Linked DNA regions of Homo sapiens: all the other regions are linked to region 4. Evidence: fine-mapped expression QTL. A gene starts in region 4. Each other region holds a variant in brackets. All regions are shown on one strand. Distances are from middle to middle. Region 1 overlaps RPAP2 (RNA polymerase II associated protein 2). Region 2 has its middle 26 kb from the start of GFI1. Region 3 has its middle 31 kb from the start of DIPK1A. Region 4 holds the start of GFI1 (growth factor independent 1 transcriptional repressor).

Evidence for each region. PIP is the estimated chance that this variant, and not a neighbour inherited with it, causes the effect. A credible set is the group of variants that fine-mapping cannot tell apart.
Region 1: its variant is the best candidate, but not a certain one, in a credible set for the expression of GFI1 in whole blood (TOPMed, PIP 0.64).
Region 2: its variant is the best candidate, but not a certain one, in a credible set for the expression of GFI1 in whole blood (INTERVAL, PIP 0.86).
Region 3: its variant is the best candidate, but not a certain one, in a credible set for the expression of GFI1 in sun-exposed skin (GTEx, PIP 0.57).

The regions. Positions count from the first base shown.
Region 1 is chr1:92,321,543-92,329,650 of GRCh38, forward strand. It overlaps RPAP2 (RNA polymerase II associated protein 2), which reads left to right. Exons shown (of 13, transcript NM_024813.3): 8 at 1,903-2,833. It also overlaps a transcript of GLMN not described here. Among named protein-coding and RNA genes, the nearest start is that of RPAP2, 27 kb to the left of the region's middle. The variant C/T (reference allele first, on the strand shown) is at 3,653.
Region 2 is chr1:92,456,653-92,464,760 of GRCh38, forward strand. No RefSeq gene overlaps it. Among named protein-coding and RNA genes, the nearest start is that of GFI1, 26 kb to the right of the region's middle. The variant G/C (reference allele first, on the strand shown) is at 3,445.
Region 3 is chr1:92,988,162-92,996,269 of GRCh38, forward strand. No RefSeq gene overlaps it. Among named protein-coding and RNA genes, the nearest start is that of DIPK1A, 31 kb to the left of the region's middle. The variant C/T (reference allele first, on the strand shown) is at 4,309.
Region 4 is chr1:92,483,251-92,491,358 of GRCh38, forward strand. It overlaps GFI1 (growth factor independent 1 transcriptional repressor), which reads right to left and starts at 3,675. Exons shown (of 7, transcript NM_005263.5): 1 at 3,476-3,675; 2 at 123-336. The coding sequence starts at 237. RefSeq lists enhancers at 1-457, 1,058-1,658, 2,259-2,859, 2,782-2,931, 3,832-3,881 and silencers at 342-471, 2,252-2,431, 2,632-2,681, 3,302-3,411, 3,502-3,711.

The DNA of each region.
Region 1 (8,108 bases), 160 kb before region 4:
AAGTTTTGATAGTGTCTGTGCTTTAGAGCATCCTTGTTTGTTTCAAGTTTGTATTGGCAAAGCTACTGTTGCCTTCCCTTTTTCGTAATTCTTCATCTTATTCAAATCTAATCTGAAAATTGAAGAACATTGTCAGGGAAAACTTTTGTCTTTTATTGTTAGCATATTGTTGTAACTCTGGATTTTCAAATTTAAATATCTTTTATTGAAAAATGTTGATTTGCTAACTTGTTCTGCTATGACTTTCCTGTGATTTTCATTCTGTAGAATTTTCTGTACAACAATCAACCAGAATTAGAAAATGTTTACCCATTTATTTTTATCATTTTATCTTTTCAAATCTAAACACAATTCCTGTAATTTTTTTTTTTATTTAAGAAACCGATAATGAAATTTTCTTTCTTTTTTTTTTTTTTTTTTCAAGACAGAGTCTCACTCTATCACCCAGGCTAGAATGCAGTGGCGCGATCTCGGCTCACTGCAACCTCTGCCACCTGGGTTCAAGCAGTTCTCCTGCCTCAGCCTCCTGAGTAACTGGGACTACAGGCATGCGCCACCACTCCTGGCTAATTTTTGTATTTTTAGTAGAGACAGGGTTTCACTATGTTGGCCAGGCTGGTCTTGAACTCCTGACCTCAGGTGACCCACCTGCCTTGGCCTCCCAAGGTGCTGGGATTACAGATGTGAGTCACCACACTCAGCCAAAGTTTTCAAAAGAAAAACTTTTTTTAAAAAGGTCAGCCAGTAATCCCAGCAGTTTGGGAGGCCAAGACAGGTGGATCACTTGAGGTCGGGAGTTTGAGACCAGCCTGGCCAACATGATGAAACCCCATCTCTACTAAAATACAAAAATTAGCTGGGCATGGTGGTGTGCACCTGTAATCCCAGCTACTTGGGAGGCTGAGGCAGGAGAATCACTTGAACCTGGGAAGCAGAGGTTGCAGTGAACCGAGATCTTGCCACTGCGCTCCAGCCTGGGTGACAGAGCAAGACTCCATCTCAAATGAATAAAAATAAAATAAAATACAAAAAATAAAAAATAAAAAGCTCAGCCGGGCACGGTGGCTCACCCCTGTAATTCCAGCACTTTGGGAGGCCAAGGTGGGCAAATCACTTGAGGCCAAGAATTTGTGACCAGCCTGGCCAACATGGCAAAACTCCATCTCTACTAAAAAAATACAAAAATTAGCCAGGCGTGGTGGTGCCCACGTGTAATCCCAGCTACTTGGGAGGCCGAGGTGGGAGAATCGCTTGAACCTAGGGGGCAGAGGTTGCAGTGAGCTGAGTTCACACCATTGCACTCCAGCCTGGGCAACACAGACTTTGTCTTAAAAATATATATTTATTTTTATATTATTTTTCATATTATATATTTTTTAAACTACATATATACTTTATATATTATATATAATATACATTATATATGTACAAGTATATATTATATATGTAAATATGTGTACATATAAATATATACTTTATATTTTTATATATTTATATATCTTTATATTTATATATATACTTTATATATATATTTATATATATATATATATTTGCAACAACAGGCAAATCCAAATAGTGCAGTAGGATAGCATTATCAAGTTTTTTAAAAAGTTTTGCTGTACTCCTGTAACAATTTTAAAATAATTGGGGGAAAAAGATGAAGGAAGAATACAGAAGGAGAACTATATCAAAAAATATATTATTAACAGATGTACTGAAATTATAGGCTTCTTCTGAAATTTATATATCAGAACCTAGAAATAAGGTTTTGTCTGGGGAATAAAAATTTCTACCTTGAAAGTTACAATGTATAAATACTATGGGGTACTTTACTTTTCTATTGTTTTCGGGTTTTATTTGCTATTTTTTATTTAGTTATTTTATTTCTCTTTCATTCTACAGTGGCCATTCTGGAGAAGAAGTACAGTTATGCAGTAAAGCCATTAAAACATCAGATATCGACAATCCTAGCCACTTTGAAAAGCAATATGAATCTAGTTCTTCTAGCACTCACAGTGATAGTAGCAGTGACAATGAGCAAGACTTTGTTTCCTCCATTCTACCAGGAAACAGACCAAATTCAACAAATATTAGACCACAGCTGCACCAAAAAAGCATAATGAAAAAGAAAGCTGGTCACAAAGCTAACTCCAAACACAAAGACAAAGAACAGACAGTAGTAGATGTCACTGAGCAGTTAGGCGATTGCAAATTAGATAGTCAGGAGAAAGATGCTACATGTGAACTTCCTTTACAGAAAGTAAATACTCAGAGTTCTTCAAATAGCACTTTGCCTGAAAGATTAAAAGCGTCAGAAAATTCTGAAAGTGAATACAGTAGGTCAGAAATAACTCTAGTAGGCATAAGTAAGAAAAGTGCAGAGCATTTTAAGAGAAAATTTGCCAAATCAAACCAAGTGTCTAGGTCAGTGTCTAGTTCAGTGCAGGTGTGTCCTGAAGTTGGAAAGAGAAACTTACTTAAAGTTTTGAAGGAGACTTTGATTGAGTGGAAGACAGAAGAAACATTGAGGTTTTTGTATGGCCAGAATTATGCTTCTGTGTGTCTGAAACCCGAAGCCTCTCTGGTTAAAGAAGAACTTGATGAAGATGACATAATCTCAGATCCAGATAGTCATTTCCCTGCCTGGAGGGAATCTCAGAACAGCTTGGATGAGTCTTTACCTTTTAGGGGCTCAGGTACAGCCATTAAACCACTGCCAAGTTACGAGAATTTGAAAAAAGAAACTGAAAAGTTAAATCTGAGGATCAGGGAGTTTTACAGAGGACGGTATGTTTTGGGTGAAGAAACCACCAAATCACAAGACTCAGAAGAGGTATGTCTTACAGACATTGAGTTTTTCCAGATCGTTAACATTTGGAAAACTCACCACAGCAAATCTTGGAGCAGGAAGGATATTGAAGAGTTAATTGTTAAATTTTCAAATAGTTTCTTTAGTCATTCTGCCTTTTGGTTTACAGTGCCATCTCCACTGTTGGCATTACTATTTTACAAATAAGTTGACGTTTACCCCTAGCAAATTTTCATCAGTGTGCAATATTTTTTTCTAATGTAAAAATAGCCTAAAATGGTGGGACAAAGTTTTCCCTAATTCTTCATACAATAAATGAAGCCTCTGAAGAGGCTTGCTTTTTCTTCTTCGGTATTCTTTCAGATTTTTACATGGGGTCTGTGTGTGTGTGTTTAATGGAAGTATATGCCATGGAATAGACTTGGTAGTTACATTGGAAAATATTTAGCAAGCATGTCCATTGAAAACATTACAGATCAAAATAGTTTGTAAAAGAGACTTATTGGGAAATAATGGACAAAGAGAATGGAAAGCACATTCAGATAGACCTAGATTTGAACATCTGTTGTGTCATTTACTAGCTGTATGAAAAATTAGTTTCTTGGTCTGTTTGCTCATCTGTAAATGGAACTATTAATAGCTTCTCTTGCTCAATTGTTATTTGTTTTAAAGATAATGTGTATAAAGCATTTATCACAGTACATGACATATAATTGGTACTCAGTAAATAGTACCCATATGTAGAGATTGAAAATGTGCCACTGAGATTTAGAGAGCATCTTTTAGTATTTCTACTACCCATCTTTGATTGATGTATACTCCCTGGAAAATGAAGTCATTTAA[C/T]ATGAAGAGGAATGGGTAATAACCTTGTTTTTACCACAAAACTTTGTTCTCAAATATTCCTAAGTAAATGTGGCTCTAAATTTAAAAGCACATTGGAGATTTGGAAAGAGGGTAGAAGTAGAAATGTAGTAAAAAATTTAGAAATATATTTCTATAGAGTGTTGCTTGGCCCAGCACCCTACTTCAAATCATTTCAAGTATCTTATTAGACATCATCCAAAACTTATATTAAGCTAGGAGAAACATTGATCTCTGTCACTGAGCTGCATAAACCTACCATAGAACATCACTTATTTTATCATTTTGTCCTTTTTAGCCTTAAAAAGGAAAAAATAATCCCTGAAATTTGACTTTTAAAAATTTATAACATTTTCCAAAAATGTTACATAACATGTTAAAACATTTCCATTGAAGTACAACACAAATAGTAATTATATGATTTCTTGAGTATTCACATATGAATGTCCTGATGTAATCACTACCCAAGCCAAGAAATAGGTCATTACAAGTAAACTAGAAGCCCCATATATATCCCCTCCTAATCAGCACCTCTTTCCAAAATTAATATTATATTAGCACAGATTAGTTCTGTCATTTTTTTTCCAGTATATATTCTTGGTGTCCAGTTTATTTCATGCAATATTATACTTTTGAGTCATTTGTGTTGTTGCATATAGCTGTAGTTCATTCTTTTATTGCTGTATAGTATTCCATTATATAAATATACCATTTATTTATGCTAATGGACATTTAGACTATTTCCAATTTGGGGCTATTATGAACAATATTCTTAGGAACTTTCTCGTATTTATCTCTCTGCTAATATGCGTATGTATTTCTGAAGTATCTAGGACTGGGAATGGTGGGTTATCGTATATGCATATATGCAACTATACTAGATAATGCCAAACAGTTTTCCAAAGTGGTTGTACCGGTTTACAGTTCCACTACTACTATATGGGAGTTTCCTTGATTCCATGTCCTCCCTGGTACTTGATATAGTTAGTTTTAGCCATTCTGGTAGTATTGGTTTATGATTATAATACATTACTGTGATGATGAATAAATTCAGCACTATTTTATTTGCTTATTGACCACTTGGATAATCTCTTAGGTCAGGTCTGCAGATCTCTCAGCCATGGATACCAGCACCTGCTCTGGTGGAGATGGCAGGGGGGTGAAATGGATTCTGTGAGGATCCTTGCTTTTGGTTGTTTAATGTACTATTTTTGTGCTGGTTAGCCTCCTGCCAGAAGGTGGCACTTTCAAGAGAGCATCAGTTGTGGTAGTATAGGGAGGATCAGGCTGTGGGTAGGGCCGTAGAACTCCCAAGAATATATGCCCTTTGTCTTCAGCTACCGGAGTGGGTAGGGAAGGACCGTCATGGGGGCAGGGCTATGTGCGTCTGAACTCAAGACTCCTTGGGCAGGGCTTGCTGTGGCTGTTGTGGGGGATGGGAGTGTGGTTCCCAGGTCAGTGGAGCTATTCCAGGAAGATTATGGCTGCCTCTGCTGTGTCATGCAGGTTGTCAGGGAAGTGGGGGAAAGCTGGTGGCAGGCCTCACCCAGCTCCCATGCAACCCAAAAGACCAGTTTCACTCCCACCATGTCCCTTCAAACAGCACCAAGTTTGTTTACAGGCAGTGGGCAGGAAGGGCTGAGAACTTGCCCCAGGCTACCAGCCTCTCACCTGTGAGAACAAGTAGGGCTTTCACATCTCCCAGCCTGTGGAGTCTGCACACCAGATTCACACCCTCCCTTGAGTTCTGGCCAGGAGACTTCCTGTTCATTTGGAATTGTTACAAAGTTCAGCTGGCCTATCATATGGTCTATCTCGGAGACTGTTCCATGTGCTGATGAATAGAATGTATATCCTGCTGTTGTTGGGTAGAATGTTCTGTAAATATCTGTTAAATCCATTTGTTCTAGGGTATAATCAAAATTATATCAAATATTCTCTCAGACCACAGTGGAATTTTTTAATTTCTACTTAGATTTCATTGTTGACCTAGTGATCATTCAGGAACAGGTCTTGATGACCTGTCTAGTGCTGTCAGTGGAGTACTGAAGTCCCCCACTATTATTGTGTTGCTTTCTATCTCATTTCCTAGGTCTCGTAGTAACTGTTTTATAAATTTGGGAGCTCCAGGTTTAGATGCATATTTATTTAGGATTGTCATATTTTCCTATTGGACTAGTCCTTTTATCATTGTATAATGTCCCTCTTTGTCTTTTTAAACTGCTGTTGCTTTAAAGTTTGTTTTGTCTGATATAAGAATAGCTACTTCTCACTTTTGGTGTCCATTTGCATGGAATATGTTTTTCCACCCTTTACCTTAAGTTTATGTGAATCCTTATGTGTCAGGTGAGTCCCTTGAAAAGCAGATACTTGGTTGGTGAATTCGTATTAATTTTGCCATTCTGTATTTTTTAAGTGGAGCATTTAGGCCATTTACATTCAATGTTAGTATTGAGATGTGAGGTACTATTCTATTCATCGTGCTATTTGTTGCCTGAACAGCTTTTTTTTTTTCATTGTCTTATTGTTTTATAGGTCCTGTGAGATTTATGCTTTAAAGAGATTCTATTTTGGTATTATTTCCAGGATTTGTTTCAAGATTTATCGCTCCTTTAGCAGTTCTTGTAGTGCTGACTTGGTAGTGGTGAATTCTCTCAGAATTTGTTTGTCTGAAAAAGACTATCTTTCCTTCATTTATGAACCTTAGTTTCGCTGGATACAAAATTCTTGGCTGACAGTTGTTTTGTTTAAGGAGGCTAAAGATAGGACTCCAATGTCTTCTAGCTTATAGGGTTTCTGCTGAGAAATCTGCTGTTAATCTGATAGGCTTTCCTTTATAAGTTATCTGATGCTTTTGCCTCACTGCTCTTAAGATTCTTTCCTTCATCTTGACTTTCGATAACCTGATGACTATGTGCCGGGGCAATGATCTTTTTATGATGAGTTTCCCAGGTGTTCTTTGAGCTTCTTGTATTTGGATGTGTAGGTCTCTAGCAAGGCTGGAGAAGTTTTCCTTGATTATTCCCTCAAATATGTTTTCCAAACTTTTAGATTTCTCTTCTTTCTCAGGAACACCAATTATTCTTAGGTTTGTTTGTTTGACATAATCCCAAACTTCTTGGAGCCTTTGTTCATTTTTTAAATTCTTTTTTCTTTGTTGGACTGGGTTAATTCAAAAGCCTTGTCTTGAAGCTCTGAAGTTCTTCTACTTGCTCAATTTTATTGCTGAGACTTTCCAGTGCATTTGCATTTCTCTAAGTATGTCCTTCATTTCCCAAAGTTGTGATAGTTTTTTATTTATGCTATCTATTTCACTGGAGATTTTTCCATTCATATCCTGTATGATTTGTTTGATTTCTTTAAGTTGGGCCTCACCTTTCTCTGGTGCCTCCTTGATTAGCTTAATAATTGACCTTCTGAATCCTTTTTCTGGCAATTCTGAGATTTTGTCTTGGTTTGGATCCATTGCTGGTGAGCTAGTATGATGTTTTGGGTTGTTAAAGATCCTTGTTTTGTCATATTACTAGAATTGTTTTTCTGGTTCCTTCTCATTTGGGTAGACTGTGAGAAGGAAGATCTGGGACTCAAGGGCTGCTGTTTAGATTCTTTTGTCCCACAGGGTGCTCCCTTGATTTGGTGCTCTCCTCCTTCCCCTAGGGATGGGGCTTCCTGAGAGCCAAACTGCAGTGATTGTTATTGTTCTTGTGGATCTAGCCACCCAGCAGAGCTACCAGGCTTCTGGCGGGTACTAGGGAGTGTCTGCAAAGGGTCCTGTGATGTGATCCGTCTTCAGCTGTGGATACCAGCACCTGCTCCAGTGGAGGTACAGGGGAGTGAAGTGGACTCTGTGAGGGTCCTTAATTGTATTTTTTTTAAGTGCGCTGGTTTTGTGTTGGTTGGCCTTCAGCCAGGAGGTGGTGCTTTCAAGAGTGCATCAGCTGCAGTAGGATAGGGAGGATACAAGCTTGCTCTGGGGTCAGGCAGTGGGTAGGGCCATAGAGCTCCCAAGAGATTAAGTCCTTTGTCTTCGGCTACCAGGGCCAGTAGAGAAAGACCATCAGGTGGGGGTACCATTGTGTGATTCCCAGGCCAATGGAGTTATGTTCCCAGGTGGATTATGGCTGACTCTGCTGCATCACACAGGTCACTAGGGAAGTGGGGGAAAGCTGGCAACCACAGGCCTCACCCAGCTTCCACACAGCCTGCAGCCTAAAAGGCCAGACTCACTCCCACCGTGCCCCCACAACAGCACCAAGTTTATTTCCAGGCAGCTGATGAGCAGGGCTGAGAACTTGCCCCAGGCTACAGGCCTCCCAGCTGAGAAAGCAAGCTGACTCACAGTTCCTTGCCTTTTCTGGTATGTTTCTGCGGTAGTTCTTGGAGCAAAAGTTCATGATGGGAGTCTCCACATGCCGCTCTGTCTGACCAAGTGGGAACT
Region 2 (8,108 bases), 27 kb before region 4:
GTTTTAATCTCTTTGTTTCTATTTTTAAAACGAATTTTTTTGAAGCCAACATATAATTAGATCTTGCTTTTTTATCTACTCAGATAATCTCTGACTTTGAATTGGGGTGTTTGGAATTGTCATGTCCAATACAATATGTGTAGCAACTAGCCATATATTCCTATTTAAATTTAAATTAATTAAAATTAAACACAATTTTAAAATCAGTCACACCAGCCACATTTCAAGTGTTCAATAGCCAAATGTGGCTAGTGGCTACTGTATTGGACAGCACCGGTTACGTCATTTGCATTTATATATAATGGGGATTATTGATATGGTTTGGTTTGAGTTGTAACATTTCACCATTTCTTTTCTTTTTCTTTTCTTTCTTTCTTTCTTTTTTTTTTTTTTGAGACAGAGTGTTGCTGTGACACGCAGGCTGGAGTGCAGTGGCACGATCTCGGCTCAGTGCAACCTCCAGCTCCCGGGTTCAAGTGATTCTCCTGCCTCAGCCTCCTGAGTAGCTGGGATTACAGGAGTGCACCACCATGCCTGGCTAATTTTTGTATTTTTAGTAGAGATGGGATTTCTCCATGTTGGCCAGGCTGGTCTCAAACTCCTGGCCTCAAGTGATACGCCCTCCTCGGCCTCCCAAAGTGCTAGGATTACAGGTGTGAGCCACCGTGCCTGACCTCTCCAATTATTTTCTATTTGTCCCATCTGTACTGGTTTTATTTCTAGAAGTTATATTTACTTTCAAATCTGCTTGGTCTTTTTTTTTTTTTCCCCGAGATGGAGTCTTGGTCTTGTCACCCAGGCTGGAGTGCAATAGGACAATCTTGGCTCACTGCAACCTCCGCCTCCTAGGTTCAAGCAATTCTCCTGCCTCAGCCTCCTGAGTAGCTGGGATTACAGGTGCCTACCACCACACCTGGTTAATTTTTTTTGTATTATTAGTGGAGACAGGGTTTCACCATGTTGGCCAGCCTGGTCTTGAACTCCTGACCTCAGGTGATCTGCCCACCTCGGCCTCCCAAAGTGCTGGGATTACAGGTGTGAGCCACCATGCCTGGCCCTCTGTGGCCATTCTTTATTGTCATTATTCTCTGCTCATATTTTTAAGCACTTATTTTTTCTCTTTAAACATAATAGATTATTTCATATCTGTTTTCCAACATCTGAAATATTTGTGAGTCTATATTTGCTGAAATTTGTTTATATTGATTCTCATTTATGGTGTCTTGCTTACATCATTATACGTCTTGTGATTTTTTAAAAAAAAAAATATAAGCTGCCTGTTCTCCTTGGAACTTAACCTGTAGGAATTCTTTAAGGTCTGGATTACAGTTAAATCCTTCCAGAGAAATTTGTTTTTGTTTCTATCAATTGCCCCAGGTGCTACCAATCTGGGACTATAGTTGAACTATAGTTAGTTTAAAATTTTAGACTGAATTCTCACAAACACACACGAAGGCCAACTTGCTTTACGAACTGTTAGGGAAGATTTCCAACCCCTCCACCAGCGCCAAGGTGGAAATAGGCATTTCTTCATTATCTCCTTCTGTGCAGAGTGACTTCCTATTCATCCTTACACTGAGGGTATAGAGGGGTGAGTTTCCTAAGATTCTCCACCTTAGTCAGCCCTAAGCTTTAACTCCTGATTCTGTGCCTTCTTCATACAGCTTCATGCAGCCTCAAAGAAGGAAGGACTCTCCAGAATTTGAAAAAACCCTGCTTCCCCGACCAGATTTCCTACTTTCACTACTGTTTCTGAAATCAACAAATTCCTTATTTTGGTGACAGATCAGTGATTTATTTATAATTATGTAAGAATAGTTTACCCAGAATTTTGGTTGTTTTAATCTACAGAGTTATTCAGGATATCTAATCTATGATACTGCCAGAAATGGGAGTTTCCAGCCCTGTTACACTTCTTTTTCTTTTTTCTTTTTTTTGAGACAGAGTTTCACTGTGTCACCCAGGTTGAGGTGCAGTGGCTCCATCTCGCCTCACTGCAACCTCCACCTCCTGGGTTCAAGCGATTCTCCTTCCTCAGCCTCCCGAGTAGCTGGGATTACAGGCATGCGCCACTACGCCCAGCTAATTCTTGTATTTTTAGTAGAAGACAGGGTTTCACCATGTTGGCCAGGCTGGTCTCGAACTCCTGACCTCAGGTGATCCACCCGCCTTGGCCTCCCAAAATGCTAGGATTACAGGTGTGAGGCACTGCTCCTGGCCAGCCCTGTTACATTTCAAAGTCATTGATTAAGAATAATAGGATAATAACTATTATATGTTGGTTGTTTCCTCTGGGCCTGGCATCTTGCAGGTATCTGCAATCCTCACAATAACCCTACAAGTAGGAATTATTCTTCCCATGTATTCCCAACAGATAAAGCAACTAGGATTAAATTGTCCAAAGGCATGCAACTAGTCAGCAAAGGAATTTGAATTCTGCTCTTTGCAATCAATCTTGATCTACTTTTCTTTTTATTTATTTATTTATTTATTTATTTTTGAGACGAAGTCTCACTCTGTTGCCCAGGCTGGAGTGCAATGGTATGATCTTGGCTCACTGCAACCTCCGCCTCCCAGGTTCAAGCGATTCTCCCACCTCACCCTCCCAGTAGCTGTGATTACAGGCACCTGCCATCATTCCCGGCTAATTTTTTTTTTTTTGTATTTTTGTAGAGACGGGGTTTCACCATGTTGGCCAGGCTGGTCTTGAACTCCTGACCTCAGGTGATCCGCCTGCCTCGGCCTCCCAAAGTGCTGGGATTACAGGCATGAGCCACTGCACCCAGGCCTGATCTACTTTTTAAGCCACAGAGATGTTTTTCTTAATATTGATGGAACACAGTGGCTTTCATATTTTAGAGGAGGCACTGAAAGCAAGGTAAGCAGAGAAAAGATTTTATGGGGTAAGTCTTTCCACTTCAGAGTTCCAACACATGGGCTCCCATCAGCTCACTCCATATCCATGATAGGTTTAATCAGATTCAGGTTTAATCTATAATGAAATAATCGTGCAGAAACCGACTTCATGATACTGGCAGTCAGAACTCTCAGATCTCCCTTGTTCTCTATTATTTCCAAAGGTGACCTTTGTTTGCTTGAGACACAAAACCAGTTCCTTCATCTGAATTGTCTTTTACACCCTCACGTATCTAATAGGACTTTCTCTCAAATACAGACTTTGGATGTCATTTTCTTCATTTTGGGGGGTTGGTGGCTTTTGTCCTTAGCAGCTGTGGCCTTAGACTTTATCTAGGTTTGCAATCAGGAAGCTGTGATACTTCCTGAGACTGTTCTGGGTAAAATTTACACAATACAAGTTGAGTTCTCTTTCTTCACTTAGGAGTTGCTCTGGGCTCTTGAAAGGACAGGCTGTGCTCTGTCCAGTTTGCTACAGGTTGAATCCAACAGTTGGTAAGAACCAGCCTCTGTGGTTTACAGCTACTT[G/C]TGCTTCCTGAGCAACACTCGTGGAGAATTTGGAAAGAAGGCAATGATTAGGATTAGAGTCTAGAAAACCGTTAAGAAGGAGGAAGTTTATCAACTTAGTGGGAGTAAATCTCCAAACCACTCTCAGAATGCTAACACGCACAGTTTCTCTTTGCCATGACCAATCGTCAGGCTGTTGAAGGAAACCAACCTAATAGCAGAGGCAAAGGGAGAAGCTGGAGAAGAATAATCATTTAAAAATATTCACATCCTTTGACCAAATAAATAAGTCAGGAATGGACATTGTTAGGTGCCCCCCCCAACTTTTTTTTGTTGTTGTTGTTGAGATGGAGTCTTGCTGTCACCCAGGCTAGAGTACAGTGGCACCATCTCAGCTCACTGCAACCTCCACCTCCTGGGTTTGAGTGATCCTCCTGCCTCAGTCCCAAGTAGCTGGGCTTACAAGTATGTGCCACCACGCCCACCTAATTTTTTTTTTTTTGTATTTTTAGTAGAGATGGGGTTTCGCAGTGTTGGCCAGGCTGGTCTCAAACTCCTGACCTCAAGTGATCCACCCACCTTGGCCCCCCAAAGTGCTGGAATTACTGTGCCCGGCCCTAGAGCCACTTATTATACACAAGTTTTTCCATTTGTGAAATGCTCCCAAAGTTGTAACCATCATTCTGTATTTATTTCTTGACTTATAGACAGGGTCTCCCTCTGTTGCCCAGGCTGGAGTGCAGTGGTGCAATCATAGCTCACTATAACCTCCAACTCCTAGGCTCAAGCAATCCTCCTGCCTCAGCCTCCCACAGTGCTGTGATAACAAGCATGAGTCACTGTGCTTGACCCTATCACTCTATATTTAAAAGTTATTTCCTTGCTGGGTACACCTTGGAACTCTCTGATGAATTAATCTATTTTTATATTTATTGATACAAATTTTAATACTATTTTAAATACTATTAAAAGTTTCATGAGCTTATTATTAAGTTTGTGTGCTAGGAGTCTAGTTTCTGGGCCTTCATCCCCAGAGTGCTGTCTTTGTCTCCTGTTGGTGAGAGGACTTAAAGGAGTAGGAGAGGGGAAAATACACAAGTTGGAGTCTGTGTAAGCAGATTTGGTAAATGAAAATGAGAGAACAGGGTGGCCTGAGGTTTGGGATGATGTCTGAATTAGAGGTGTTCAGCTTTGCCAGCCTCCACAAACAATAGTAATACAGAAGAAAATGTCAACTCACTGCCTATCAGAAAATAGCATAAATAATGCCTTTGACGACTATAGTATCTGTTCTCTGAAATTTAAAGTATTGCCTCACCAAATCCCATAACACCTCCTGTGAAGTGAATAGGATAAGTATTAGCATTTCCACTTGAAACCCCTTATTTCAGTTAGGAGTAGATTAGGGGTAGGGAGAAAAGCAGAAGAACCAGATATCTAGGAAAGAGACTGCCTGATCCTCATGAGGCTGAACTTGTCCACACATCTCATGCCTTTTCACGATCACATGCCCAGAAGACCTGATTCAAATCTTGTCTTCACCATTTAGTACCTCTCTGAGTTTCAGTTTTCTCATGCATAATACAGATGTAATGACAATCATCTAACAGGAATGTTAAATTGGGAAAATATTGGCAAAACGCTTGACACATAATAGGTGTTTAAGATATGTATGATCTCTTCCCTTCCCCGACAGTTCACAAAAGCGAAATTATTATCACATGTTTTCTATAATTGGAAGGGAACAAAAGTAGTAGAATATCCCTAAGGTTGGCAGATACCACAGTCAAACCACACTCCATTTAAGATGTGCTAAACAAGGTATTTAAGAAAGTGACCACATGGGGGAATAAAAGAGACATTTATAATGGCAACCCAAAGAGGCAAACCCCACAAGGACACAATGAAAACTGAAACCACAATAATCTCTAAATAGAGAAGTAATAATTGTAGCCTATATTTAAGTGTACGGGAAGCAAAGGTTTAGGTGGGTAGGGTTGTCTGCCATGGCAATCATGCTTATTATTTCAAAATTTGTGGAGAGAACTAGAACTATTTTTTTTAAGTCACAAAACATTTCAGGTCTTTCCACTCTTATTGAAAAAAAAAAAAGTACAGAAATAAAAGAAGTAATAAAAAGTGAGGCTGGGGAATGGGCCAGGGCAGGAGTATACAGGTAGAATCAACTGTATTGATAAAATTCTTTTTTTTTTTTTTTTTTTTTGAGACGGAGTCTCGCTCTGTCACCCAGGCTGGAGTGCAATGGCACAGTCTCAGCTCACTGCAAACTCAACCTCCCAGGTTCAAACAATTCTCCTGCCTCAGCCTCCCAAGTAGCTGGGATTACAGGCATGTGCCACCATGCCTGGCTTTGTATTTTTAGTAGAGACGGGGTTTCACCATGTTGGCCAGGCTGGTCTCGAACTCCTAACTTCAAGTGATCTGTTCGCCTCAGCCTCCCAAAGTGCTGGGATTACAGGCATGAGCCACTGTGCTCGGGCAACATAATAAAAATTTCTAAGTGGATTTGAAATAGGTGGTCAAGTTACAATAAAAAAGAATCATCGATATCTGCAGGGAGTTCTATCTGCAATCAAAAATGAAATGTGTAATCCCACTTTCCAAATGCTGCCAGAAAACATATTTGCACTTCTGATTTTAGAATCAATAAGTTAGTTAACAAAGAATACAGCTTTGCCCCTGGACACTAGTAAGTTGCTGGATCAGGTGCCTCATACAATTGTACTTATTCAGGGACATAGAGAAGCCTGGTCTCCATCAGGCAGATGGAAACAACTTGGGCTATGGCAGCAAAGGGCACCAGGCAATGGAATAGTCCTGGGCTTGGGAGAGGTGGTCTGTAAATTGCTGCCGTCAGCAATGAGTGGCTAATTTCTTAAATATCCTTGTGAATTTTTAAGAGAAAAAAATACACCAGGATAGACTTAATTGAATGTATGTGATTTAATAAGGATAAGAATAATAAGATTATCAGGGTTTCCAGAATAAAATTTTGTCATGATCTAATTGAGAAATAAAATCAACCAGTGACGTGAGCTGACCCCAAAGAAATAGTACAAATAATCTGAGATCAGCCTTGAAAACCAGACTGCCTGGGGTTTAATACCAGCTGTGTCACATATTCACTATGTGACCTTGGAAAGATGGTTAACTTTTCTGTGCCTTAGTTTACTCGCCTATAAAATGGTGATAATAATGATAGATACTTTGTTTCAGAGGAATATTGCTAGGATTAAATGAGAAAATGTATGCAGAGCATTTAGTTCATTTCTTAACATAGAGCAAAGTCTTAATAAGTGGTGGTAGTTATTCATATTAGAAGATATCAATAATGATAAAAATAGTCATGACAGCGGGTTATTTATTGAGTGCCCACTCTGCACCAGACTCTTGACATAGATGATATGGTATATATATTTTTCCTGCAGATTTACCTTACAAATTGGGTTTAATATTTAAGGTGAGGTTGTGAGCAAAGGAAACCAGACTTTTCAAAGGGACGATGATCACAGTGAAACTGAAAGCATAAATTAAGGAAAGATCAGTTATGCCCTTTTTTTCAGGGACAAGTTTCAGGAATCCAGATTTTCTTTATTTGATAGACACATATGGAGTAACTCTTAGACTCCGCTGGACTAAAAAGAGACAGCTACACTCTCCAGTTAGAAATGGCTGTTCATACTCTGAAACTGATCATCATCTAATGTAAGTACAGTATGGCATATCTCTAAGATAAATGGAGAAAGTGCAACCCAACTGAACGCTGATGGCAGTTGCTTCCTGGCTTGGAGAAACAGCGATTGCATTCTTAGTTTTAACCTTTCTGGGCCCCAAGCTTAGGATAATATAGTCTATTATTGGCCTGTTTCTCATATTATTCTGAAATTTCTAGTGTCTACCTTGTAAGAGAAAAACATTACTAGCCAGGCGCAGTGGCTCACACCTGTAATCCCAGCACTTTGGGAGGCCGAGGTGGGCGTATCACCTGAGGTCAGGGGTTCGAGACCAGTCTGGCCAACATGGTGAAACCTCTACTAAAAATACAAAAATCAGCCAGGCATGGTGGCGGGCGCCTGTAATCCCAGCTACTCAGGAGGCTGAGGCAGGAGAATTGCTTGAACCTTGGAGGCGGAGGTTGCAGTGAGCCAAGATGGCGCCACTGCACTCTAGCCTGCGCGACAGAGCGAGACTCTGTCTCAAAAAAAAAAAAAGAAAAAAAAATTACTGAGTACATAAATATATGTATGAATTTAAATGTACTCCCACCTCCCCAGCCAAAATCCTATTGCACTGAACTTAGGCTAAATTTAACAACATTTAAGTAATATTTATTCATTTAAAAAAATACTTGCTTTATAGGCCCTAGAGATGCAGTAGTAAATAAGATAGACATGATCTCTGACTCATGGGAAGTCAGATAATAAACAAGAAAACAAGTAAATAAATCACAAATCATCAGAAAATGCAGAAAGGAAGGCAATTTGTGAACAGAATGACTCTGACACAAGCCAGTCTTTTGTGAAGCCCTCTTCCAGGCTAATCTGGGCCCAGGATGTATATAGTCTCTGTCCCTCTCAGATGGTACTCCAACATCTTAGGGGAGGAGCCCTAGGGGTCATGGCTTTTCACAGCATGAGAATCAGAAGGAGAGGAAATAAGGGGGA
Region 3 (8,108 bases), 500 kb after region 4:
GTTCCCTTCTAATCTTTCTCTGTAGAGAAGATTTATCATCAATGGATGCTGGATTTTGTTGAATGATTTTCCTGCATCTATTGAGATGATCATATGCTTTTTCTTTTTCAGCTTGTTAATGTGATAAATTACATTGATTTTCAAATGTTAAACCAATTTTGCATTCCTGGGTTAAACTGTATTTGGCTATGATGTACTGTCCTTTTTATATATTATTGCATTTAATTTGCTAAAAATATTTTTAGAATTTTTGCAACCATATTTATGAGGGATATTTGTCTATAGTTTTCTTATAATGTCTTTGTCTGGTTTTTGGTATCAGGATAATACTGGCCTTATAGAATTATTTGGGGGAAAATTCTCTACTTTTCAATTTTCTGGTAAAATTTGTATAGAATTGATATTGTTTCTTCCTTCTACATTATTTAGAATTTACCAGTTAAGCAACTTGGACTTTTCTTTGTGGGAAGATTTTTTAAAACAAATTCAATTCTTTAATAGATATAAGGCTATTCAGGTTACTTATTTCTTCTTGAGTGAATTTTAATAGTTTCTGTCACTCAAAAAATTTATCCATTTCATCTATGCTGTTAAATTGATATGTAAAAAGTTTCTTATAATATTTCCATATTATTATTTTAATAACTATAGAAACTTTAGTGATGTTACCACTCACATTCTTGATATTGATAATTCATATATTCTTTCTTTTTTCCTGACAAGTCTGGCTAGAGATTTATCACTTTTATTATCTTCTCAAAGAACCAGCTTTTGGTTTCATTAATTTTTTCCTACTGTTTTTGCCTTTTCTTTTTTATTTATTTGTATCTCATATTTATTATTTCTTTTCTTCTGCTCACCCTTAGTTGAATTTGCTCTTCTTCTTCCAGTTTCTTAATTTTTTTTTTTTTTTTTTTTTAGAGACAGAGACTCACTATGTTGCCCAGGCTGGCCTCGAACTGGGCTCAAGCAATCCTCCTGCCTCAGCCTCCTGAGTAGCTAGGACTATAGGAGCACACCACTGTGCCTTGTTCTTAAATTAGTTTCTTAAGTTTCAAAAGAATTTTGCTTGTTTTTGTTGTTGCTGGCAGAAGAGTAAATCTAGTTCCCAAATCCCATCGTGCCTGGAAATGAAATAGGATTAAGTTCATAATCATGTCTTCATCAAACTATTTTTGATCACTGAGCCCAGATCTTTCTTTTCATATTTGTTAGGCCTACAGATTCCAAATCTGCTAGAGACAGGGCCTTGCTATGTTGCCTAGGCTGGAGTGCAGTGACACGATTATTGCTCACTGTGGTTTTGAACTCCTGGGCTCAAGTGATCCTCCTGTCTTGGCCTCAGAGTGCTAGGATTTCTGGCATGAGCCACTGTACCTGACCTGGTTTTCATTTGTTCATTTGAGCAAAATTGGAAAAAAATGGATAGTTCTTTCTGAGTGAAACACCTATCCTTTTTATATTCTATGCCCTTACTTTATGTCTTAATCCATTAGTGTTGCTAAAACAAAACACCTGAGACTAGGTAACTTATAAACAACAGAAGTTTATTTCTCACAGTCTGGAGACTAGGAAGTCCAAGATCCCAGCAGGTTCGGTGTCTGATGAGGGCCCGGTCTTCCCTCCCAAGACAGTGATTTGTTGAGGCATCCTCTGGAGAGGAGAAACACTGTGTCCTCACATAGAGGAAGGGATAGAAGGGGCAAAAAGAGGCAAACTTTCTCCATCAAGCCCTTTATAAGGGCACCCAATCTTATTCATGAGGGTGAAGCTGTCATGACTCAATCACCTTTTATAGGCCACGCCTCCTAATATTGTTGCATTGGGGATTAAGTTTCAATATGAATTTTGGAGAGGACAAAACATTCGAATTATAGCATTTTGTACTTTGTGAGCTTAGAGCTCAACACATTTTTTAAAAAGAAATAATCACTGCTAGCATTTTTAGCAGTAAAAGCATGACTGGCAATCTAAGGGAAGAAAATATTAAAAAAAAAAAAGCTCACAAGATGCGGTGACTCACGCCTGTAATCCCAACAGTTTGGGAGAGTGAGGCAGCAGGATCACTTGAGTTCAGGAGCTGGAGACCAGCCTGGGTAACATGGTGAGACCCCGTCTCTACAAAAAATTTAAAAATTAACAGAGTGAGGTGGTGTGCACCTGTAGTCCCAGCTACTCAGAAGTCTGAGGTGCGAGGATCCTTTGAGGTTATAGTGAGCTGTGTTCTTGCCACTGCACTCACTCCAGGCTGGGTGACAGAATGAGACCCTATCTCAGAAGCAAAACAAAACTCAAGGATAACTGGGCATGGTGGCTCACACCTGTAATCCCAACACTTTGGGAAGGAAAGGTGGGAGGATAGCTCAGGCTAGGAGTTTAAGAGCAGCCTGGGCAACATAGCAAAACTCTGTCTCTATTAAAAAAGAAAAAAACCTCACTGATCTAATCATGCCCCAGGGTTTATCCACGTGTGCTTAAGAGAAGGAGTAAGTGATAGCCTTCATGGCTCAGGAGGATCACAGGTAATGTCAGCTGCCATGTGACTGAGCCATCCTGGAAGCAGATGCACCTTGCTAATGTATTCCTGGATTCTGACCTTTGGAAACTGTGTGAAATAAATGTTGCTTTAAGCTGCTAATTTTGGGATAATTTGTAATGCAGCAATAAATAATACAGATTCACAATGAAATAGGAGTTTCTAGGATTTGAGATAAATAGTAGCAGGTTTCTAGAACTCAGAAGGCACCAGGGTAAATTTCTTTGCCATATTGTGTACAAAGCACTCAGAACACTGTTGACAAAACAGTACTCACAGGTTGAGAGAGTCCAGGGACCATCTGGGACCAATGCCCCAGCAATGCAGATTTATGTGGTAAATGGTTTCAGGGAAGTGGTTCTGTGTTTCCTGAGAAGTACCGGATGTTTTTTATGGTGATAAGAGAGACAGAAGGAGTTTAGAGAGTTCAAGAGAGGAAAGGTAAGAATGCCAGGGCTCAGAAATTGGAGAGCTATTTTATAGAGTAATGAAAAGAGGAGTTTTCTTTATTTTTACCCTGTTAATTTAACACTAATGCATTCAGAAACTTTAGAAAATATAGGTAGGCAAAAAGAAGAAAATTAAATTCACCGTATGGAAATAATCGCTGTTGCCAGGCTTAGTGGCTCACACCTATAATCCCAGCACTTTTCTTTGGGAGGCCAAGGCAAGAGGATAGATTGAGTCCAGGAGTTTAAAACCAGCCTGGGCAACATAGTGAAATCCCATCTCTACAAATAAATAAATAAAAATAAAAAGAGGCTGAGTGTGGTGCCAAAGTGGAAGATCACTTGAGCCCAGGAGTTCAAGACCAGCCTGGGAAACATAGTGAGACTTCATCTCTATAAAAAGAAAAATAAATTTTAAAAAAGAAATAATCACGCTAGCATTTTTATCATGTTACTCTGACAAATAAATAAATGAATATAGACAGACTGACCCACCCATAAAGTCAGTATTTCAGTTGCCCCTTTAGAAGGCCATTTTGGCATTCTGTGAGCCTGGCTGCATCTGGATGGTGTGGCATGTAATATGACCAATGGAACCCATGGTCATGGGTCCATTCCTGTACCTCTGCTTCAAAGCAGGTCACTTGGCCAGATGTTATGCTGTGTGGGATTCCATGCCTGTGGATCAAGCATTCTATAAGCCCCTAGATAGCAGTCCTGGCTGAGGCTCTGTGGGTAGGAAAGGCAAACCCATACCTGGAATAGGCATTATCCTTGTGAAAGTGAACCACTAACCCTTTCAGAATAGGAGAGTTCTAATATCCAGGATGTTTTCCTTGAGAAATAATATGTTGAAGACTTAGTGATGGTCTCTGTTGCCGACAAGTTGAACATTCAGAGATAACTAGATTGGCTTTGCTCTGAGTCCATGCTGTTGGGCTCATATGTGGTCTCCACCTCTGCCATATGGTCACCCCACTCATGTGCCCATTATCTCAGCTCTGGGATTGCCAGTGATGCAGTCTGACTAATATCAATTGGCAGAGCCATTGTGTCTGCTTGGTTGTTAAATGTCTGGTGGATACTTTCTGGTAGACATGTGATACAACAGTCTTCATACTTTGTGCCTACTCTCACATGTCCATCCACTTCCTCTACCCAGATTTCCTTTGTCTCTGGTCTTCCAGTCCTCTGCATTCCAGGCCTTTAACCAGACAGCCAAGCCATTGGCCACAACCCAGGAATTTATATGTAGGCCATTTTTCCTTCCACCAAAGCAGATTCCCAGCTCTGTCCTTGGGGAAGATTTTTCCTTTCCACTGT[C/T]ATTAAGGAACACCTCTGAATGTGGCGATAATGCAGTCACCACTCATTTTTAGTATGCACTTGAGACGACCTATCTATAAACGAATCTTGGGCTTTTCCTTCCACTTTAACTCATCATAAGAGACCTTTCACAAGGCCATTGGTATAAGCCATGGGAGAGGAACTAGTGCAACTGTAATAGGTGACACGAGGGCCTGAGCTATTTGCCCATAGAGCTGGCTTGTACCTTCCGGTCCTACTTGGACTTGATTCTGGATATATCTGGATATACCATTTTCATCAACCGATGGATTGCTACTGGGCCCATCTAACTTTTTAACTTGATGTTATGGACAGAACCCTGATTACAATGGGAATAAGTTCTGAATGCATGGGTCATTTGATGTTCAATAGTCAAACATTCTGCCTCTACCAGAGTAACTTGCCTTCTGCAACTCGACAAGACAACAACTTGACAAGAACTGTTTTTCAAAGGGTATGTAATTTTCTGCTGTGGGTGGCATGACCTTTCTCCAGAATCCCAGGGGTCAGCCTTGTGATTCTCTCACTGGAGTTCTCCATAAGCCCCTCACTGCATCTTTTGCCACCACTGATACCTCCAACACCATAGGGCCTGCTGGATCATGTGACCTGAGTAGGGGTCTGCTTATACCACAGTCTGGACCTGATGGAGTGCCCTTTGTTTCTTCAAGCCCCCTCAAAGCTGTCAGCCTTCCATGTCACCCAGTATATGGGCAGGTGCAATATTCCTAAGTATGGGATATGTTGCATCAGAATCTAAAGAGACTTCCAGGCTCTGTGCTTTCTTCTTTGGGTTAAGGTGGAAGACGCCACAACTTGTCTTTTACTTTGGAGAGGTTATTCCAGCAAGTCTCTCACCACTGGACTCCTAAAAACCACACTGAAGTAGCTGGGCCCTGAAACTTCATGGAGTGTATTGACCAATTCTGGAATCCACATATCTTACCAAGGCATCCAGCCACCTCTACCTGACCACGGGATACCTCATATGAAGTGAGTTGCCCATTTTAACTGGGACTTGTCTGAGACACCAAACCATAAATTTGGAAAGCCCAGAGCAGTTCATCATTAAGCAGAATTGGCATACATAAGCTCAGGTTTAAGCAGCTTCTGAAGACTCTAATTAGTTAAGCAGGTGACCCTCACTCACAGTATGCCTATGCTTTTCACACTCAGCCCACAACTGTATCCTAACGGGAAGTTCCCTGTGATCAGTTGAGAAAGGAAGAAGGGATTCAAGCCTGGATAACAGATGACTCTCCATGGTGTGGTGTTACCAGTCAAAATTGAACCACAACAGCTGTCCAACTTAGATGTCTGAAAGACAATAAAGAATGTAAATCCTCCCACTGAGCATAACTTTGATCACTGCATGTCATGGTCCATTTGCTGAAAAAGGTGGACTGAGATGCAGATCTATGCACTTTCAAGGGCAGGGGCTAAGTGTAAGGTCACATGTTCAAAAACTTGGAAGAAAGAACAGAACACCAAGGGATTGGTAGCTGGAGATTTAGGGGAAATGTATGTGAATGAATATCTCGGAATGATCCCAGAGTGTAAGAATATTTGTGTCTCATGTGAATGACAGTCAAATAGCCTTTGCGGTTGAGACGTTCTGAATAACCAGTGGACAAGATTACCCATTTTATGACTCTCATATTTTTTCCCCAAACACTTCTGTACTTGCACAATTATTTATGGACTTAATATGGGCCTCACCTCAGCAAAGCTAATCTAGCTACTGCCATTGCTTGAATGCCAGCCTGACCTTGAGCCCTCAATTCACTGCTATACTCAGCAAGAAAAGACTGCCACCTGGTGGCAGATTGATTACATTGTCCTCTTCTTTGACTAAGGAAGAGCAATTTGGTCATTTATTCTTATTGGAATAGAAATTCATTCTGGGTAATCTGCCTTTCTTACCCGCCATACATCTGAGAGAAATATGATCTATAGATTTACTTACTGCTTCATTCACCATCATGGTATACCATAAAACATCGTTTCTGATTAAGGAGCTTATTTTATAGTAAAAGGTGTGAAGCTGCTGGGCGCGGTGGCTCACACCTGTAATCCCAACACTTTGAGAGGCCGAGGTGGATGGATCACCTCAGGTTGGAAGTTTGAGAATAAAGCTATTCATATGTCTATTGGATTCACTGGTCTTAACATGTATCTCATCCCCCCAAATTCTATGCAGAGATGCTATTCAAGGTAATCTACTCAAAATTTAGGTCCCCAGAAAGAATCAGGGCCCAGCTCCTGGGAAATGGGATGGCATGAATGAGGTGGGAAAGCAGGACCTTGGCTTCTAACCGGGACTCAGGGTGCCCTCTGTAGAATAGAAGGATGGAAAAGCTATGAGACCCAGTAAGAAGGAATGCAAAAGGGGATCTGGCTTCTTTTCACCAGGACATTGTGTTCAGGCTGGCATTGTAGCATTTAGGGTTGCTCTCAGCTGGTGAGCAGCTAAGCCAGTTTTGTCATATCTCAGTTTCCTAACATGCCTTTTTAATGCAGGTCTTTGTGCCTTTTCTTACACTGTTTTTTATATGCCCTTCTCCATTTATCTGATCACTACTAACGCCACAGCATCTCCAGAAAGTCTTCCTTTACTGGCCACATTAGCCCACAGTAACCTCTTCCTGAACCATATCACTTTCTGTCTGCATCATTTGTTTGGCATTTATCATTTATTTTTCAATGATAAGTGGACATATCATGTCTTCCCAAGTAGATTCACAGGAGCAATTTCGTAGACCTCATAGTATGAGCACAGTAACCATCACAGTTATGGAGAAATGCATACTGACTGATTGATTGATATAACCAAGCACAATGAGGAGTAAGTGCCATAGGCATTCATGGAGGGAACTATCATAAGACAGTGCATAGCGGGCACTCAATAATCATTTGAGTGACTAAGTGAATGATCAAATTGAGGAATGGGTTGACATGACTGGGAGGTCACATAAAGGAGAGAGGACCTTACTTTTGCTTGAGGAATGGAGAAGATGTGTTTAGAGGAAAGGCATAAGAGGCGAGGGAGTGGGTATAGCCTCTCCCTTCTCAACAGTCTACTGCTGTGCTCCCGTCTCCTAGAATGTCTCCGGCCCTCTCCCTGCCCCACCATAATATTGCTTAATAAGGAAGTAAGATTACTGGGCAAACAAGCCACTGCTGCATAGGCAGGAAAGTAAACTTTGTTTCTGATGTGACCATGTAATCTTTCCTACCTTTAATCTCCAGTACCATGCCAAAGCAAAATACTTTGGTGAGTGGTGCTCAAACCCAGGATTTAGTTTTAAGCCTGTCCTAGTGCACAGGCTCAAATTGAGCAAATGTGTCTTCTGCCATCCATGTGGAGCGTTTTGACTCCTTCCTTAGCCCTGTGGTATTCTGGGAGGTTAGGCTCGCTGCTTAGAGAATTATGTTGTGGATTAAAACCAGACCAGGTGGAAGGGAAGCCTGTGACAAACAAAAGCCATGACCTTCTCTGAGGTAATTATAGATAAACTCAGATTTTGCATAATTTCTTGGCTCTGCTGTATCAGGAGCTTGCTAAAGTCTTGTGTTTTTTACTTAGTCATTTCTTCTGTCCCAGGGATGGGGGTTGGGAGAAGCTTTGGGATTGCTGTGGAAGGAAGAAGGTGCAAGTCTCAGACACTCTGGAAGGGTCGGGGTAAGTACAAGGATATTAGCAAGTTTAGCCTGGTGACTTCTAGATCCTCTGCCTGGAATGAGATCTTTGCATAGGCGAACTGGAGGACTCTAGGCTG
Region 4 (8,108 bases):
GAAACAAAAACAGCAGCAAAAGGGACGTTGGGGCAGCCCCTCCCAGCTCCGGACTAATGGTGTGCCGAGGTGCAGTAGGCATCCGGGGGAGCAGCCCCGCCTGGCCCGCGCGCGCCTCGCACCTGCTCGGCTAGGCGCCGGTACATTCTCTAAACGGAGGGAATAGTCTGGTCCTGGGGAGCGCGGCTGGTGGTAGCTGTGAGCCTTCTTGCTTTTGACGAGAAATGAGCGCGGCATGGTGGTCCGGCACTTTCCCCACTGCGCCCCAAGAGTCCCTGGAGCCGCTGTCACCCACGGTCACTCCGAGGGCTTGCTCAGCCCCAGCCCGGAGGAGACCTGAGAGGGAAAGAAAACCAGGTGGAGACGTGGGTCAGTACTCTCCGGTGCGGCGGACTGGGCACCCAGGCGGAGGGAGAGCGCGGGCCAGGGAGGCGCGCAGAGGGCCCACGGGAGGAGGGGCTTGACCCTGCTGCGCCGCGCTTACCAGGTGGCACTTGGACAGGTGGCGCGAACCCGCCGTCGTTGCCGCCGCCGCCACTGACACAGCTCAGCGGTAAAACCTGTCCCGGGGCCCTGTCTCAGGCCCCTTTCCTCCTCCCTGCCCACGCCCCCCAGCTCCTCCCCTTTCCTAGCGAAGCTCGCTCCGGCAATCAAACTCCCTGGAGAGCTGTAGTTCCCATCGGGTGGGTTACCCCAACTCAGCTACTCATCGCCTGCCTGGCTGTGCTTTACGGCTGGCGAGGGAGGGCGGGGACACGCGGATCGGTTTAGGGGCCGGGGATGCCCAGTGGTCGAGGACCCGGAAGGGGCAAGGAGCCAAGACCTCCAAGAGCCAGCTACCAACTGGAGTGAAAGGACCGGGGGGAGGGGGGAACAGAACACAAGATAAAACTGTGGGGCGGCGGGAGGACAGCAGCAGAGGGATTGGGGACAGCAGAGGCCAGAGAAAGGAGGTGGGAGAGCAAAGGGACAGGAAAGTGAGGGGAACAACAGACGACCAACCCCCGCCCCAGGAGAAACTCGCATCTGGGTGATCCCACTCGCCCCTCACTAGTGCCCCACGTAGGAGAAACTTTGCCCTTGGACTCCCGGCTGCGGCGGGCACCGGTCGAGGCTGCGGCGAGCCATCCCAGACCATGGAGACCTAACCTCGGGAATCAGGTCCCGGGAAAAAAGCACTTTCCGTTCTGCTCACCAAAAAATCTTGTCCTAGGGAGGTGGAGCCCGATCCACGAACGTTGACTGGGAAATGCTAGGTGTCCCGAGTCGGTAGTGCACCGACAATTTAGCAGACAAAAAAGACAGGACGCCAGAGCGCGCAGGCTGCATTAGCAGAGAGCGGGGGTCGGGCCCGGGCCCGGGAGGGAACTAGCTGCCCGGGGCGTCGCTCTCATTAACCCCCAATCAGTTCACCTAATACCAGGTCGAAATCTGAGCGCAGCGGGAGGGCGTGGCTGCGCCTGCCGCTAGGCTCCAGCCGGCTCCGGGGGCGGTACCCCACAGTCGAGGTGGTCTGGAGTAAACGAATCTGCCTTCCTCCCGGGGTGAAGGCGATGGTGACCGGGTTCACACGTGAGCTGCAGTACAGCAGTTCTCCGTGGCCTCGGCTGGTTCAGAAACGAGGGTGCTGGGAACTCTGGGCCGGGGCAGGACCTGCAGTCCTCCGGCTTCGCGCTGTTTCCACTGCCGGACTAGGAGCCCCTCGGCTTCCTAGGCAAGATGCAGGCCACACAGTCTACGTCTGTCCGTTGGCGCTCTCAGCTCAAACGAGTCCTACAGGCCTTGGTCCCTGTAGGGTGCAGGCCCCCTGCTCCAGATCCCCAGCCCCATTGTGTCCCCTTCTCCGGAGGAATGGGAATAGACCTGGGAGAAAAGACGCCTGGGACGTGTCGCGGGGCTCCCGCGAAGTTTCCCGCTACCCAAGCGCCAGAATGCCCCTAGGGGTGAGAGTGCCATCCGCCTCCCTCCGGGGTGGCTCCTAGGGCTAGAGCTTTGTCGCTTCCTGCACTTCTCGTCCGTACAATTAGACGCCACAAACCCCAAACCCAATTCTTTAAACAGCCACGAAACTCGGAAGAAAAGAAAAACGGAGTGGCGTTGTCCCGAGGGTCCCGCTGCAGCTTGGACCCACGTTGGCTGGGAGCGGGACAGATGGGGGCGGGGTAACTGTCAGCGCCGGAGCTGGGTCTGGGCTGGCGCCACCAGAGACCAGGCGGACGCGGAGGCCGCCTCCCCACCCGGGCTGTAAGCCCACGCCTCTCTCGCACCCCGGCCCGCTTTGCTGGTTCCTGTGGGGAGCGACAGAGTTTGGAGGAGATAGGGGCCCCGGGGCCTGGGCCGAGCGCGTGGGAAGGCAACCCCGCGCTGCAGCTGGCGCGGGAGGTGGGGCGGCCCCTCCGCGCGCTCAGGCCTCTCCTCACCGTCCGGGCCCAGGAAGGAGGGAGCCGAGGGCGCTAAGGGGGCGTCCTCCCGAGCGCAGCTGCCGCCGCCTCCCCACCAGATGTTTCCTTCCCTGGTGGATTTGGCTCCCCTGCCGAACCACCAGACCGCCTGCTGCGCGCCCCCAGCTCCAGATTTCCAGTCACACTGCGCGGGTCGCGCCCTAACCCAGCTGCCGGAGCTCTCTGGGCTCCCGCACGGCGGTCCGCAGCAGGTGGGAAACCGCCCGCGCCCTCTGATCGCCCCCGCAGTGCCAGTGCTCTGCGAGTCCCCGCGGCCGCCCCCACCAGGGCAGGAGGCGCAGAACAGGCTCGGCGGACCTACCTGCGGAGTCACGGCGCGGGCACCGCGCTAGGAGAGTTTTCAAACGGAATCTTGCTTTCGGGAGAGACCGCTCTATCTCTCTGACTTAAAAAAAAAAAAAATTCTCCTTCCGAGCTCAGCCCCCAAAACCACAAGCTTCACTTCCTGAGCGTTACTGAGTCGCTCGCATAGCCCTCCCAGACCTGCTCCCAACCCCCGTCGGGCGGCCGGGCGCGCTCCTTTGCGCAAGTGGCCAGGCGGTGGGGGGCCTGGCCTTTCCAGCCCGTCCCGCGCGCCCCTTAGTAGTCCTCCCAGTTCTCTCCCTGTGGGTCGGCAGGGGATGGGGGAAATTGGAGGTCCGGACACTTAGGCACTAGAAATGACTTGAAAGAAAATGAACTATTCTTGGCTCCAGGGAGACTTCCGCAGCGAGAGAAGCCACAGATTGAGGACACAGATTGACTGGCGAGAGAGGGGTGGGGGGCGCCCCGCTCCGAGGACCCTCCCCGCCCCTCAGGCCTCGGTCACCCGCCCCCCCCACCCCCGACCCCGCCGCCTCCTAGGGCTGCACCACCCCCGGGTCGGGACCGTGAATCACCGGCCCGCGGTGCCGCCGGCCTGGAGCCCGGCGAGTGGCCACGGCGTCCGCAGAGCGAAACCTGCCCCGCAGGCCCCGAAATAGCTTGTTGTGGAAACACTTGGGGATAAATACGCCCAACGAGGCTGAAAATACCTTGACACCCAATCCGAGAGGTTTGCTCATTTCCCTTCGGATTTAGGTAATGGTTAAATTTGGAAGAGGTGGGCGAGCGCCGAGCCCCCGGCGGAGAGGGCCCTGGCGGCGCGTCCCGCGGGCGCCCGGCGGGACCGGTGGGCGCACCCTCCCTGCGCGGAGCTCGCCGGCTCTCGACCGGGTCCGCTCAGCCTTCGACTAATTTCCGGTGGTCGGAGCTGCAAAATTAAAGGCCGCGCGGGGGCAGCGCCGGCGGCTGCTAGGCTGACTCCGCCCTGCCGGGGCAAGCCAGGGAGAGCGGGACCTCGCACGCGGGCTCTGCCACCGCCTGAGGTCATACCCAGGCACTGGGTGTTGGCGGGAGCAGTAAAGCGCCATAAAAGCACCACTTGGATGACTATTGCAAAGTAAGCCTTCTTCGCTCGGATTCTATGTTTCATGAGGGTAGGCACTGGATCTTCATCTTTATGTCCTAGGCGGGCTCTTAACAAAAGGCTGTGGACTGAGTAAATGAATGAGTGGGGTTAATTAACTAATTAATTATATTAATAGAACAGGGGGAAAAAACTTAAAACCTAACTCATAGATACATGAACAAATGCAGCAACCTCCAACGCTAGACTGTATGCCATGACCCATAGTGTGTGGCCTGCTGTGTATACTCAAAGCCTACACCCTTTGCTCATTGGAGTGGATGGATGTTGTAGTCATGTTACTTTTCAAAATGAATTGACTTGGATTTTGATCACAACTTCGTGCACAATAGGCCTCCAATGTCAGACATGCACAAGGAGAAGAGAGTGGTGCTCCCCAGTTCTTGCAAAATAACTACCATGTTCTAGGTTAATCTTAAATTGTTATGGGGGGGGAAGCCCTTAAAGCTCTTTTTCTAGAAACAGTTTTTAAATTATTCTTATTTTGCACTGTAAATTTAAAATTTTGCAGGGAATATTTGGTTAGTATAGCAGTGCTTCGAGCATGTATTAATAAATTATACGTTTTGTTAAGCAATGACCTGTGCCCCTATTGTATGCCAGGCGCTGGGCAAATCTTGTCTGCCTAGCTGTCCTCCTTCATTTGCTCAACACATCCCTTCTTTATATATAAATGCAGAGGCAAGCAATTTTGGTCAGAAAGGAAAATTAAGGACATTTTGTTAATATTTTATTTCTTGTGTGCTTTGTCCTGGCCTAAGGTATAAAAATCTCACAGTAGTGCAAAAACAAATCTTTCCCTTATTCCCTTCTCTCCTACTCGATAGCAGAAAAAAACAAATTTTTAGAATAAAATTATAAATGGGACAAAATAAAATTTCTTATCAACCAAGTTCTAGAGAAATGGTTGGACTATTTCCTTTGCATATTAGCAAGTTCAAAGTCAAAATTTCTCGAAAAGGTGCTGTGACTATTTTATAGTTTAGTTGAGTGTTGCTGTTTGAAGTCTCAGAAAACTTGAGGGAGCCCATGAAGGGGGCAGATAAGCACCTTGAGCAGTGAGCAGTATCACCTTAGAATAAATCCCTTTCATTCAGATTTAGTCTAGTCATTTTGCTTTTCATTTGCCCTTCACAGACTCTTGGGATTTCTGAGTTTGAAAAAGAAAACTGAGAACTGGAACAGGGACACGCAGAAAGGAGCAGGTGGGAGGGAGATGGCACTGAATTTCCCTTTATGTCTTTTACATGTTGAACCATGTGTATGTAGTACTAACTCAAATAAATAAATACACATTTAAAAAGTATTTAACAAGTATTCAACACGTTTAAAAAGTATTTAACAATACTTTTTAACAACACAACACTCCCGGGTGTATAGTGTTGAAGTGTGACTCCCACACTTGGGGAAGAATAGGAGAAAGGTAAGAAGAGGGGAACCCAGAGAGGTTAAGAACCTTGCCAAGGACAGTGAAGAGCTAGGACTAGAAATAACGATACAATGAACCCATCTCTGACTTCCTGCTACTCCAAACTACCTCTTGCTTCTATTAAACTAAGGGCAAAGAGAATAAGCCACCCCTCCATGAACATTTTTAGAAGCTACAAATACTCCCTCTCCCTCCATATATTCCTTTGGAATTGAAATAGATCTAATGGTAAGCAAAATGTATACCTGAGGCACAATTTTCTATAAATAGGGTCTTTCCAAAGGAATAATTTTACATTTACTGCCTTTTCAATAATTTGAAACTAATTGTTTCAAATATTTAGAAACTAATTGTTTCTAAATAGCAATAATAATGTATCTGTCGATGCCAAATAACAACTGACCTTCTCATACCACAAACATTTCCAAGCCTTGGCCAGTAGCCCATTTATTTCAAGCAGCCTCTCATAGATCAGAATTTCCCTACAACAGAAGATTTGAGACATTAAAAAAAAAAAAGTGGAGATGGAGTCTCGTTATGTTGCCTAGGCTGGTCTCAAACTCCTGGCCTCAAATGATCCTCCTGCCTCAGCCTCCCAAAATGCTGGGATTACAGGCGTGAACCACTGTGCCTGGCTGAGACATTTTCAAAAAGAAAATTGTAACAGGATATTACCAGTATCTTGTTTATTTTTTCACAAAGCTTTACAATTATGATCTCTGTCCTTTGTGGGACGGCATGGGAAAAGTGGGTGATCCTGAAACCCCAGGGAGGGGCAATACCCCCATTTCCAGAATACATTTCTATGTTTGCCTCATTTGATTCTCACCATGATGATACCAGGAAGGGAAAAAAGAGTTCAGGCATTCAAAAGCTAGTAAGATGTGATTGTCAATCTCTGTTCTGCTAGTACCAGCTTTGAGACCTTGGATAAGTTAGCTCAACTCTCAGCCTGTTTCTCACCTGTAAAGTCGGAATACTGGTACCTACCACGCAAGACTGTGGAGCAACCTTTTTTTTTTTTTTTTTTTTGAGATGAAGTATTGCTCTTTTGCTCAGGTTGGAGTGCAGTGGCGTGATCTCTGCTCACTGCAACCTCCACCTACCGGGTTCAAGCGATTCTCCTGCCTCAGCCTGCCGAGTAGCTGGGATTACAGGCATGCACCACCACGCCCAGCTAATTTTTGTATTTTTAGTAGAGACGGGGTTTTACCATGTTGGCTAGGCTGGTATTGAACTCTTGACCTCGTGATCCACTTGCCTCAGCCTCCCAAAGTGCTGGGATTACAGGCATGAGCCACAATGCCCAGCTGGAACAATCTTTTAATTTGCACTCTTTACCTGTTCATTTGGGCAGCAAGAATGGGAGAATGCTCCAAATGAGGGTTTCTGAGTTTTAAATATAAACGTATAAGAAATTATGCTATATTATTTGTATATTATAAATAATAATATAAATAAGACTATATTACAAATTATGCTACATATATCTGATAAGAAAAGAATAAAACTCTGTAAAACAACTTTCAAGTATTCTTGCTCTATTATTTAACAAAAATTATAATCGTATTACAGATACAACTGAGTAGTCTGCTTTTCTTCCCGAATATTATAATTATTTTTCTTTTTTCTATTCTCTTTATTTTCCTGTTTTCTTAAATGGAATATAAACTTTTTATAGTAAAAATTATTTAAATAAAAATCATGACAATCATCTTCCTTGCTTTTTATATACAATCTTTCATTTTCAATTGCTATAAAAAAGTTCTATCAGCTAGTTTACTATAATTTACTCAATCACTCTCATCTTACTATTTAGCTTGTTTCGAGTTTTTACTATTTTAAGTAATACAATGAAAAGATTTTTGAATATAGCTTTCCCTACATTTGGAATTATTTCCTTAGGATATATTTTTAGGGGTGAAATTTCTAGATCCAACAATGATTATTTGTACGGTCCTTGATACATACCAGAACAAGTTTTATGGATGGCGCTTATGTAATGCATAAGCCAAAAGAATTCATACCACTTAACAGTTAAAAGACTACAAAAATAAACTAAGGAAAAGTTTGACTTGGATTAAAGACCAGATATAGAACTGGTCTTTATTTTATGTACAGGAAGTACTTGTTAGAACCACACCCTGTCATATTGCCATGGTTTTATCCTCATGTATACTAACAAACTATTTAATTTTTGTCTTTGGATTAGGTGTCATGATAGGTGTAGTCAAACTGAAATAAGAATTACATATATTTTAATTGTATTAATTCAAAGAAAATAAATGCAAACTGATAACTGTGTGATGCCTTAACTTGAATGACAGGTAATATAATTATCCCCTTCTAATCTTATAAGAAGCAGGCTATCAAAATAGAATTCCACTGACACCATAAGTCAGAATACGATTTAATGGTACCATCATTTGTGGGAAGTGGGTAATGTTTTTTGTACCAGCTCATGCAAAAATTGGGAAATTAAGTAAAGGAGAAACATGGAGATAAGTTAATAGAAGACTTAAGGTATAAGAACCAACTTTGTATTAATATTTTTTACTTTTCAAACATGAAGAAAAACATTTGCTTTTAATAAACATTTTGGGACTGATATATTTAAATCTCATTACATTTAAAAATATTATCTATTACTATAAAGTTTAAATTAGGCTTTTACATAAAGGATTTCAAACATCTGAAGAGGGAGGAGACTGTCAGCTTTGGTGTTCAGAGTTCAAATAAGAAAATTGTTAATCTCACCACATACGTATTT